Linked DNA regions of Homo sapiens. The protein of the gene in region 2 interacts with the protein of the main gene of each other region in a pairwise test. Each region holds a gene or a part of one and is shown on either strand. Other genes may lie near its edges.

Evidence for each region.
Region 1: the proteins of NR2E3 (region 2) and NRL come close enough for resonance energy transfer, tested with the Homo sapiens proteins (one study listed by BioGRID).

What each region holds. Positions count from the first base shown.
Region 1 is NC_000014.9:24,078,040-24,084,116, forward strand, and holds the end of NRL (neural retina-specific leucine zipper protein), read right to left. Parts: intron 4,837-6,077; coding exon of another isoform or gene 4,810-4,836; coding exon 4,429-4,809; intron 3,530-4,428; coding exon 3,197-3,529; 3' UTR 623-3,196; downstream 1-622. UniProt on the Homo sapiens protein: Acts as a transcriptional activator which regulates the expression of several rod-specific genes, including RHO and PDE6B. Also functions as a transcriptional coactivator, stimulating transcription mediated by the transcription factor CRX and NR2E3.
Region 2 is NC_000015.10:71,813,554-71,819,042, forward strand, and holds the end of NR2E3 (photoreceptor-specific nuclear receptor), read left to right. Parts: coding exon 1-82; intron 83-458; coding exon 459-564; coding exon of another isoform or gene 565-568; exon of another isoform or gene 569-1,376; intron 1,377-3,998; coding exon 3,999-4,131; 3' UTR 4,132-4,700; downstream 4,701-5,489. UniProt on the Homo sapiens protein: Orphan nuclear receptor of retinal photoreceptor cells. Transcriptional factor that is an activator of rod development and repressor of cone development.

The DNA.
Region 1 (6,077 bases), on a different chromosome or scaffold from region 2:
GGGTGATCCTGACTTTCTAGCCATTAATAAAGAGAACTGCTCCTAGCACCTCAGCCTCTAACCATCATGCCTCAGATGCCCACTGGGCAGCCTGCAGCACCCCCACACACACCATAAGAAATGAGGACCAGCACCTTTCAAAATCTGAGACAGAGCTCCCCAGGCAGGCTGCTGTCTCTGCAGTCTTACCCCAGCTATGTGCCAGTGGGATCTGAGGAGCCCCCTCCCTCACCTCCCAACCCCAGGGGGTCTAGGCACCATGGAGAATAATTACAGGAGATAGGAGGATAATTACGGGCTGTCAGGAGGGCAGGCTGAAGCTTTCTTATAGCTGTCTCCAGAGAGGCCCTGCTGAGTCCCCCAGGAGCTGAACCCCAGCCCCCACACAGCTGTGGGGCGGGCCAAGAGCAGGTGCTGGGGGATACTGAAGGAGGGCAGCAGGTCTGCTAGTGAATTGGGAACATAGTGGAGCATCTAAGGCCTATACAGTCTGGTTTCCCGGGTGTGTCAATGTGTGTGTCTGTTCATGGCCTTAATGGGTCACACTCATGGACTCAGGGATGTGCAGTGCATGAACACACAGATTCACACACTTAACAATCACATCAGCAACAACAGCAAATATCATTACGTAGCATGTGTCAACTTTATGCTAAGTGCTTATTTAAATGCATTTATTCTCAGTAGGTGGTTACCATTATTTTCACCATTTTTCTGACAATCAAGTGAGGCTTGATTTTAACCCACCCATGGTCAAAAAACTGGTAGAACTGCAACTTGAAACAGGGTCTCACTCTGCCACCCAGGCTGGAATGCAGTGGCACGATTATGGCTCACTGCATCCCCGAACTCCTGGGCTCAAGTTATCCTTCCACCTTAGCCTCCTGGGTAGGTGGGACTCCAGGTGCATGCCATTACATCTGAATTTATTTTATTTTATTTTTTTGTAGTGACAGGGTTCTCGCTATGTTGCCCAGGCTGGTCTCAAACTTCCTCCTTGGCCTCCCAAAGTGTTGGGATTACAGGCAGGAACCACTGCGCCCCACCTAAAGCACTACTCTTAATCACCACAGTGTGCAACTTTGTTTTTTTAAGTATACTCAGGTAACCCAGGAGTATCATTTTGAGACCCAGGTATGGTACTGTATATGTGGCCTAGTTGTGTGCTCAGGTGTCTATGGATGGTTCTGTCTGTCTTTGTGTGCCATGCAGGTGAGAAAAGTGAACAAGAAAAGTAGTGGGTCTGAATTACAGCTCCAGGGCAGGCAAGGATAGACACAGGTGAAATTTAGAGTGAGAGAAAAAGAGCTGGGCTCCCGGAAGGACCCTCCCTGCCCCATCCTCTCCCTTCAACAATGAGTGTGGAAGGGGATGAAGAAAGAGAAGCTAAAGGTTCTGTGAGCCCCTCAGAGAGAGAATCCAGAGCCAGAGAGGATGGCCAGTGGCCAATGGTGGGGAAGGGAGAGGAGACGAGAGAAATTCTGAGAGCGATGGAGGAGAGGACTCCCATTGCAGGCTCCTAAGCGGAGGAGGGATGAGCTGGGATAGAGGAGGGGAAAGAGGGAGCAAGAACTGTGATGGGAAGAGAAGAGACAGCTGGGGAGGGGGTGGAGAGAGGGGGTAGAAAGGAAGAGGGACATATGGGAGCCTCTTCCCCCATGCCCGAAAGCTTCTCCCATTTATTATGTCCGGTAGAGGACAGATGACAGTAACTCGTGAGGCGGCTGCTCCCAGCACAACGCCTGTGCTCTGCCCAGAGGCCCCATCTGCCCTCCCCTTAGCCTGCTGAACTGGAGGACTGGGTTACCATGGAAACTGTGAGACCTGGATAGCCACTGACAGGCCGAGCTGGGCCACTGAGGCTTCTGAGTTTGGTGGTGGTGGTGGTGAGAGGGGGAGGATCCATCTGTTCCAATGCCTGCCCCTCCACCCCATTTCCATTGGCTCTCCATAACAGATGTGCCACCCAGCTCCAGGTGGGGACTTCCCTTTTTCTTGCTCTCTCTCTCTCTCCCTCTCTCTCCCTCTCCCACACACAGACACACAAACAGTAGCCTGAAGCAGGGATAAAGAATGAACACTTCTTAAATTGCAAGAACATTTAGCTTATTGCATTAGAATTCTGCCTGGACTTCAAGTTTAATTCACAAAAGCTGCACTCTCTCAGCAAATTGTCATCCCAGGAGAAGTCTCACCTCAGCCCTCAGAGAGGTGGGAGGTGGCAGGAGCACCCTGTGCAGGTCTGGAGGCCCAGACAGCCTGGAGGGAGCTGCCGAGGACCCACGTATGTGCTCACAGAGAAGCCAGGCTTCCTCGCCTGGGCTGTGCATCCCCTGCCTAGGCTGCAGCTGGGAAACTGCAGCAGGATAGGAGGTGCCTTTGGCGAGATTGTCTTGGGGACTTCTTGGGGAGACCACCGGGACTTCCATACTGGGGAGATGCCAGAACTGGAAAGGGAGCAGAAGTCGTCCAATCCACATGAGAATTAGATGAAGTAACACAAGTCCAGGAAGCAACTGATTTGCTCAGGGTGACAGGGGGATCCCATGGAAGAGCTGGGACTAGGACCCAGGTTTCCAGACTTCTGCACACAGCTCTCTCCCAACCCACACCAACAACCCCCAGAGCTCACTCTTCAGGCCTTTGCTGCTCTGAGCCCTGAAGGCCACAGGGTTGGGCAGGGAAAAAGCATCTCGGATAGAGGTCCTAATCTATCTAGTTGTTGGATATTGAAATCTTGAAAATTCTGTAGTGCTAAAATGGGGAGGTTACAAGCTTCAGAATGAAAATACAGCCTCATTGCTAATTACAGCTTTAATGTGTTACAGGTTGAAAACCCTGAATTAAAAACTAAACTGAGGTGGGAGCTGCAACCCTCCTCCACCTCCCATTCACTGTGTCACCACACTTCCACCCCCCAGTGCCTGGCACTGGTCCCTGCAGAGCTCAGCGTGCTAGTCATGTGGGCTGGGTTTCTGTGTTCGTAAGGGGAGGGGACCCCTCTCCAGAAAATGACCAGCATCTAAATTCGGGCATGACTTGAGGACCCAAAAGCTTTGGGGATATTTGCGCGGTCATACAGGGCGTGGCTAGGACCAGAAGGCGCTCTGGTAACGATGCAGAGAACCGTGCAGCCGCCTCCTGGGCGGAGCCACCCCACCCAGCCCCCACTACACCACAAGGTGCTCTGAACGGCTCAGAGGAAGAGGTGGGAGGGGTCCCCGGACCCGGGGCCGCTCGAGGTTAGCCGGTCACAGCGAGCCTTGTAGAGATCGCGCTCCCGGGCCAGGCGGGCCACCTCGGCCCGCAGCGCGTCCAGCTGGGCGGCCAGGCGGGCGCGCTCGGCCTCCAGCCCGCGCCGCTGCTGCAGCCGCTTGGAGCGACAGGCCTGCGCGTAGCCGCGGTTCTTCAGCGTGCGGCGCCTCTGCTTCAGCCGCAGCGCCTCGTCGCGCCCGCAGCCCCGCAGCTGCCGGTTTAGCTCCCGCACAGACATCGAGACCAGCGCCGCGTCGGAAAACCGCTCTGCCAGCTGCGGAGGGAGAATGCAGAAACCGGGTCAGCGCCAGGTCGCACCCGGCTCTGCCCTGAGGGCCCGACGCTACCTGGCTCCGCCCCGGGACAGCCCCGCCCCGGCTCCCACCTTCACCGGAAGGCTCGCCCTTCCACGCAGTCTGTTTCGGTCCAGAGCCCGCCCCAGGCCCCGACGCTCCCCGGGCCCCCCAGCTGACCGTTGCTCCAGTCAGGCGGGCGCCCCACGGTGCAGGGCCGGCCACGGTCAGGCGAGCCCGTCGCGCACCTAAACCCCGGGCTCGTCTCTGGGATCCCCGGCATCCAGCTCCAGGCCCGGGTGTGTCCAGTGGACCCGCACCCAGACAGCCCCCAACCCTCCAACGCGCTGCGTTTCCCTGTCCTGAAGCCTGCAACCCGGTGACCCTCACAGGATTTGGATTACATCCTAATGCCCGCAACACCCCCATCTGTGTCTGTAATTAATAGGATGAGTCCCAATCCTTCCTGAGAAGGTTGGGGGCTGGGAAGCACGAAGTCTTGAAAAGGCCAATCTAAACCAGTCTTAACCCAGCTCCACTCCACACATAACCCTTTCCCTGGTTTCCACACACCATGTATCTGTTTACCCCCCGGAGTCGCCCACTCCCCAGCTCAATTCTTCCCTTTGGATTCTCTGCTAATCTTATCTTCTCCCTGCTCCTCCTGGTTCAGCCTACTCATTTCTCTCCATTTTAAGAAAAGGGGGAGAAGCAGAATGTAGTTTTCTCGATCTGATTGCTTTCAAGGGACCTTCTCCCCTTCTCCTGCCCTCTGTCCCCTGTCCCAGTCCATAACCCCCTCTGGGAGCTCCCCTTCCTCTCTTGGGCAGTCCTCCTTCCTTGCCCTGCCTCCCCTCAGGCCAGCTTGCTGACCACTCACCTGGACGTGCTGGGCTCCTGTCTCCTCTGGGCTCCCTGGGTAGTAGCCATGGGGCCCATCAACAGGGACTGGGCCCTGACCCTGCAGCAGCTCCATGGCCTCTTCAGGACTCAGCCCCAATGCCTCCCCAGCCCCCAGCTGCTGCTGCAGGGTAGCCAGCCAGTACAGCTCCTCCAGGCCTGGCCGGGTGCCCTCGGTTGCCCCCACCATGCCTGGTTCACTGAAGGTGGGTGAAGGAGGCACTGAGCTGTAAGGTGTGGAGCCCAGTGAGGCTGTAGGGGGGCCAGGTCGGCCCTCAGAGGGTTCCCGCTTTACCTCAAACTTCATCAAGTCAAAGTCATTGACATATTCCATGGCCAGGGGGCTGGGGGGCAGGGCCATTCTGGAGCTGGGCTGGGAGGAGTGCACCTGCAAAGAGGAGGAGAGGTCTGGAGCACATGGAGGCCACCTGCCATCCCCTCTTCACCAAGTCCCTCTTCCCTCAAAGCCCAAGTGCCCTGGAGCAAGAGTTTGGGAAAGCCAGAGGGATGGTGCAGCTCTGTTCACTGCAGAGTCCCCACCAGGCTGAAGAGTAACCTTTCAGAGGGCAGGGGCTCCTGACAGGGGACAAGCAGCTGAATTCCTGAAGGAGGAAGAGGACAGCACAGCCTCTCGCCCCACTGATGCCTCAGGATCTATGAAAAGCAAGAGCAGTATGGCAGTGCTCCCAACCCTAGTGCTGAGACATGCCGAGAGGTCTGTCATCTCAAGAGGCATCATTCCATTTCCAAGCCATTTTTTTAAATTGCTTAATTAACTGTGACAAAGTGAGTGTATATTTTAGGACAGTGGGAAGGCATGTATGCTGTGAATTTTAAGAGCCAAGGATAATGTGTTCTTATAGCTCTCTGTCTCTCAAAGCACTCAGGGAAGTGCCTTGCCTATAGAAGACCCTCAGTGTACATTTGTTCTATGGATTAATCAATCAATGAATCCCTTTTGTAGGGGCAAGAGGCTTTATATGGAAAAAAGAAAGGTCCTAGAATTAGTTCTAGAAAGATCAGAATCAACTGGCCACCATCTTTCCTCAAGGCCAGTCTCTCCAAGGGGAACAGACCAAGATTGATTTTCCTTCTATTCAGAACTTGTTACGTTGTGTGAACTTGGCAGATCACCTTCACCCTTCTGACCCGTTTTCCCTTCTGTTCAATGAGGGCAGTTAGACTTTGTAACATATACCAAAGAGTGTTCTCTAGAACACTGATTCTGAACAATACCTATGAAGAGGTCTGTGCTCAGATAACTTTGAGAAATGTTGCCTCCTATCCCTACCTCTTACAGATGCACATAGCACAAGAGCATATTAACCTGAGCAATCCTTTAGTAAACCGTCTGTTCAAGTTCAACAAAAAGTGTCCTAAACTTATGTCACCAAGGAACTCTCCTGTCTGTTATCAATCATGGGGCACATGTTCACCTGAGGAACTTCTGGCTGGGTGACCTCAGATACCCTTCCCAGCCTTGAAGTCCAAGCTCTAGTCCAGCTCCCAATTCCAGTAACTCCCACCCCACCCCCAGAAGGTGCGCGGCATGGAGTGTTCATCCCCAGGGCTTAGACTTCGGCTCCTTCTAGATGCCCCAAGCCTAGGTAGCCTTCTTTCCAACCACAT
Region 2 (5,489 bases):
GAAACTATCTCTCGGTTCCGGGCATTGGCGGTGGACCCCACGGAGTTTGCCTGCATGAAGGCCTTGGTCCTCTTCAAGCCAGGTAACTGAGTCTCTGCCCAAACCTTGAGTGGGAATTCTGGTGACTTCCATCTGCCTCTCACTCTCCCTCCACTACCCCCATGTGTGCAGATGTGTGTAGGCCTCTATCCTGGGGGGTGGGAGGAGAGTGGTGAGGCTGGACTCCCTTCTCCTTGGGGCCACTCCTGGTTGACTGTGAGGGGACAGGGCAGGCTGGGAGCCCCTGGGAGACCCTGAGCCCCAGCCGGAGCCCCTGGTGGCTCCTCTGGGCCTGGCAGAGCCCACCCCACAGGGCCCCAGGTCCATGTCTGCAGCCAGAACCCTGGGCCACCACTTCATGGCCAGCCTTATAACAGCCGTAAACCTGTGCTAAGCTCACTGGTGCTGCTTCTCCCCAGAGACGCGGGGCCTGAAGGATCCTGAGCACGTAGAGGCCTTGCAGGACCAGTCCCAAGTGATGCTGAGCCAGCACAGCAAGGCCCACCACCCCAGCCAGCCCGTGAGGTGACCTGAGCATGCGCCCACCCACTCATCTGTCCCTGACCTCTAACCTTTCTCTGCCTCTCCCACACTCTCCCAGAGCTCACTGATTAGACAGCACAAGGGTCTCAGTTCAACAGCATACAGCCAACATCTATGGTGTCCCAGGCACAGTGCCAGGCCCCGGGAGTGGGGACCAAGATGTACATAAGACAAAGCTACTGCCTTCTAGAGACAACCGGCAGTGACCTCACTGAAGACAAAAACTGCCCTAGCCAGGTACTGAGGGTTGCATGAATCTGCAGGAGACAGAGATCCCCTTGCATGGGAAACATAAAGCAGAATTGGGAGGGACTTTGTGGAGACAGGGCTGGACTTGAAAGGAAGAAGAAGTCTAAAAGAAAACATCATTTGCAAAGGGAGAGAGGGGCAAGCATGATATGTTGTTAGAACAGGAGCCCACTTTGAAGGTATAACAGGTTCCTGCCAGTGAGAAATGGGGAGAATAAGCCAGAAAAGTACCCTAGGACCAGCCCGTTCAGGACTTTGAATGCCAGCCAAAGGCCACGTCTGACTTGGGAGGCAGAGGGCAGCTACTGCAGGTTTCCGAGCAGAGGGTCATACACAGGGCTGGACCTCACGCAGACTGGCATGGCCATGGGTCCAGAGGATACTACTGGGAAGGGGATGGCAGCTACTGCCACCTTCCAGATGGTTCCATGGAGTTCTGATCTTTGGGCATGGCCAGGGGAAGCAGAAGGGAGACTCTAGGAGTTGAAATGGGTCAGACCCGGTGTTTGGGTGAAGGTAAGGAATGAGGGAAGAGGAGCTCTTTGGGAGAAGACATTGTTAAAAATATAAAAAGGAAAGCCAGGAGGAAAGACGGTTTTGAGGGAAGATGATAAGGTGTTTTGTAGGTGCACTGAGCATCCTGTAGAGATGCCAAGCACATGGATGGCCCTGGCTAGGTTTGGGGGAGAGTTGCTGCAGGCTGAGTGTGGCTGCGCGAGGGTGGGGCAGGAGCCGGTGCTCTGGGACTACGCTGTTTGGCCCAGCACAGGCAGATGTCATGGAGCCTCAGCAAGGTTGGAACATTTGGCCTTCAGGCATCTACTGGCTATTTTAGACCATGTTATCTGCAATCTTTGGGGCTCCCGGCAGTTTCTTTCTGAAGAAGCAAGCTAATATGGGCATCCTTGCATCACCTCTAATCCAAGAAATGATTACAAGGAGAAAAGGTAATTTCCTTTTAAGAAAAGCCACAGTATACAAAGTATATGCCATATAGCACAGGAAGATTTGTGCTGCTTATGAGCATAGGGAGAACGCTGCTACTACTAAGACTTGACTTAGCATCTGAAGAGTGGGATTCAGAGACATTCAGAAACCAGCAGCCTTTCTCTGCCAAGTTTCTGTTGGAACCAACTCCCAGAGATGTCCTGGCATATTGGTTATGCGTCAAATTTCAAAATGCTGATTAAGATTTCCTATGTCCCTTTTATAGCGGTTCATTGCCTACTACAAGGGAATTGAGCATGAAGATAGTGGTTTGGGGTTCTCTAATCCAGCATATTATTTCAGTTTTTAAAAACTGCAACACCCAGGAAGAAACACAATTACCATCGCCCCCTGATATGCACACAGACACCAAAGCGAAGTTCCACGAAGTAATTCCTACCCTTAGCTTTTACAATTTACCTGATGTTTCTCTTTTCTTTTTTTGAAAAGGCTGATTGTGACCCCCTGAATTTAATTTCAGACCCACTAGGTGAGGCAATACCTGCAGTTTGGAAAAAACATTCTTTAACTGACTTTATAGTTATTTCTTCTTCCTCCCACTCTAATTTAGATCAGAAAAACAGAAGCAGGGAAGGCAGATGGGAGGGGTATACGACTTGCTCAGTGCTGCTCACTTGGCACTAGCAAGAGAAAGGAAGGCCTTAGGTTGGCAAAGCAAGTCCAGCAGATCACTGAGTGGTGGGGAAGTCTTCCCCGAAATTCACGGTGAGAGGAGCATGGGACTGCCCAATGTGGAGTAGCCTCCTTGATGCTGGGTGTTGACCCTGGCCATCAGACCTACCCAGGGAAGGTTTAGTTCCCCCATCTGTCTCTTGGGGCTTCACCATCCGTCTTTTGTGTTGCGGACTCCTGTCTTAGCAAATACTTTTTTTTTTTTTTTTTTTTTGAGACGGAGTCTCTCTCTGTCACCCAGGCTGGAGCGCAGTGGCGTGATCTCGGTTCACTGCAAGCTCCACCTCCTGGGTTCACGCCATTCTCCTGCCTCAGCCTCCCGAGTAGCTGGGACTACAGGCGCCCACCACCACGCCCGGCTAATTTTTTGTATTTTTAGTAGAGACGGGGTTTCACCGCATTAGCCAGGATGGTCTCGATCTCCTGACCTCGTGTTCCGCCCGCCTCGGCCTCCCAAAGTGCTGGGATTACAGGCGTGAGCCACCACGCTCAGCCAGCAAATAGTTCTTATTTAAAACAATAAATATTTTTTTCAATGACTATCTCAGTCACCAAAATTATCCTTCAACTTCAGGACATTTTCAGTAATGGCTATCATCATCCTAGGTGGTATACAGACAGGAATTTGTATTCTTACAAACAATTCTTATCTACTAAAAACTAATCATATAATTATAATACTTATATATGAGATTAATAATAATATTTTCATATACAGGTGCTCCTTGACTTATGATGGGGTTACATCTGGATAAACCCATTGTTAAGTTGAAGCTACTGTAAGTTGAAGATGAATTTTCATACATAACCCATCTTAAGTCAAGGAGCATACTGAATGCTTATCACTTTCACACCATGATAAAGTCGAACCATCTGTATAGAGTTAATATAAACTTCACTTTATAATCTTTACATATAATAAACAATATTTACTCATTATTTTCATTGCACTCCTAAACTAAATAGAGGGTGGCGGCTCACAATGGGTCGAGGTAGGTGGAGGCAACTCCTCTGGTTAATGCGGCTTTTCTTTTTTCTTTTTTTTTTTTTTTGAGACGGAGTCTTGCTCTGTAGCCGAGGCTGGAGTGCAGTAGCGGGATCTCGGCTCACTGTAAGCTCCGCCTCCCGGGTTCATGCCATTCTCCTGCCTCAGCCTCCCGAGTAGCTGGGACTACAGGTGCCCGCCACCACGCCCGGCTAATTTTTTGTATATTTAGTAGAGACGGGGTTTCACCATGTTAGCCAGGATGGTCTCGATCTCCTGACCTTGTGATCCGCCCGCCTCAGCCTCCCAAAGTGCTGGGATTACGGGCGTGAGCCACCACGCCTGGCCTGAATGTGGCTTTTCCTCGAAATTCCTCCTGACCCACTCTGGGGACCTCATCTCTCCTCTCCTTCCTCCCCTCCCTTTCCTGGGAGGGCACCGCCCCAGGGACTAGTGCTCAGAAGCTGGTCGTAAAACTGATGGCGTCCTCTCTCCTGTTCAGGTTTGGGAAATTGCTCCTGCTCCTCCCGTCTTTGAGGTTTATCACTGCGGAACGCATCGAGCTCCTCTTTTTCCGCAAGACCATAGGGAATACTCCAATGGAGAAGCTCCTTTGTGATATGTTCAAAAACTAGTGGGGGTGGAGGTGAAATGTTTCCAAGCACTCTGGAAAACAATCTACTGAAACGAAACATTTGCCTACTCTTTGCCCCAGCAATTCCTCGTAGGTGTGTGTACCCAGCAGAAATGCCCACCGAAAGATATTGTAAGAATATTCATAGCAGCTTTATTCATAATAGCCCCAAACTGTATATTGATGGTAGGATGAATTAACAAGTTGTGGTATATTCATATAATGAAAAATAATTTAAAAAGAATGAATTACGGATACATGTGGCAACACAGGTAAACTTCACAGACATAAAAGTTGAATGAAAGAAGCCAGGCCGAAGTTCCATTTATGCAGAGTTCAGGAACAGGCAAGACTAATTGACAATAATAGAAGTTGGAATAGTGGTTACTTCTGGGTGGTGGGGGATTGATACAGAGGGGGCTCATGGGAGCCCTCTGGTGTACCAGAAATGTTGATTTTGATCTGGGCAGTGGTTTCACAAATGTATTCATACGTAATAATTCATTGAGCTGTGCACTTTATTTTGTTAGACCTCAATAAAAAAGTAAAAAAAAAAAACAAAAAAAACCAGAAAAATGAGTGTGGTCAAGGCTCTCCCTTTGGGGACACTGAAGGAATGAGCGCAAGGTCTTTGAGTTCCATCTGGGTTCCACTCCAAGTCAGAGACCAGGCGCAATGAATTCAAGCCCAGTGGAAAATCTCCCATAGAATTCAACCACCCAGCTTCTCTCCAGATGGCATCCCATCATCCGCAGCATCTCTCAACCTTTATCTCCTATCTCCTGCCTCATCTCCTTCCTAAGTAAAGAACACCTTCCAACTCAACATAAGGCAGCTACAGGTACGTTTTGTGAAAGGGACTCTTCATCACTTCTCAGGTCCTTATGGAAAGATACAGCTCAGACAAACTTCATCATTTTCTTTTTCTCTTTTTTCTTTTTTTGAGACTGAGTTTTGCTCTTGTTGCACAGGTTGGAGTGCAATGGCGCAATCTTGGCTCACGACAACCTCCGCCTCCCGGGTATAAGTGATTCTCCTGCCTCGGCCTCCCGAGTAGCTGAGATTACAGGTATGCACCACCATACCCAGCTAATTTTGTATTTTCAGTAGAGACGGGGTTTCTCCATGTTGGCCAGGCTGGTCTAGAGCTCCCGACCTCAGGTGATCCACCCACCTTGGCCTCCCAAAGTGCTGGGATTACAGGTGTGAACCTAATCCTTTTTGAAGATAGACCCAGATGACTGTGAAAATAATATTTTAACATGTTAACATAGATCAGGCAATGTATATATTAATAGCAGGCAGTGAGCCGGGCACTTTTTAAATTGCCATTTAATCCGCAGATTAACTCTGAGGGAA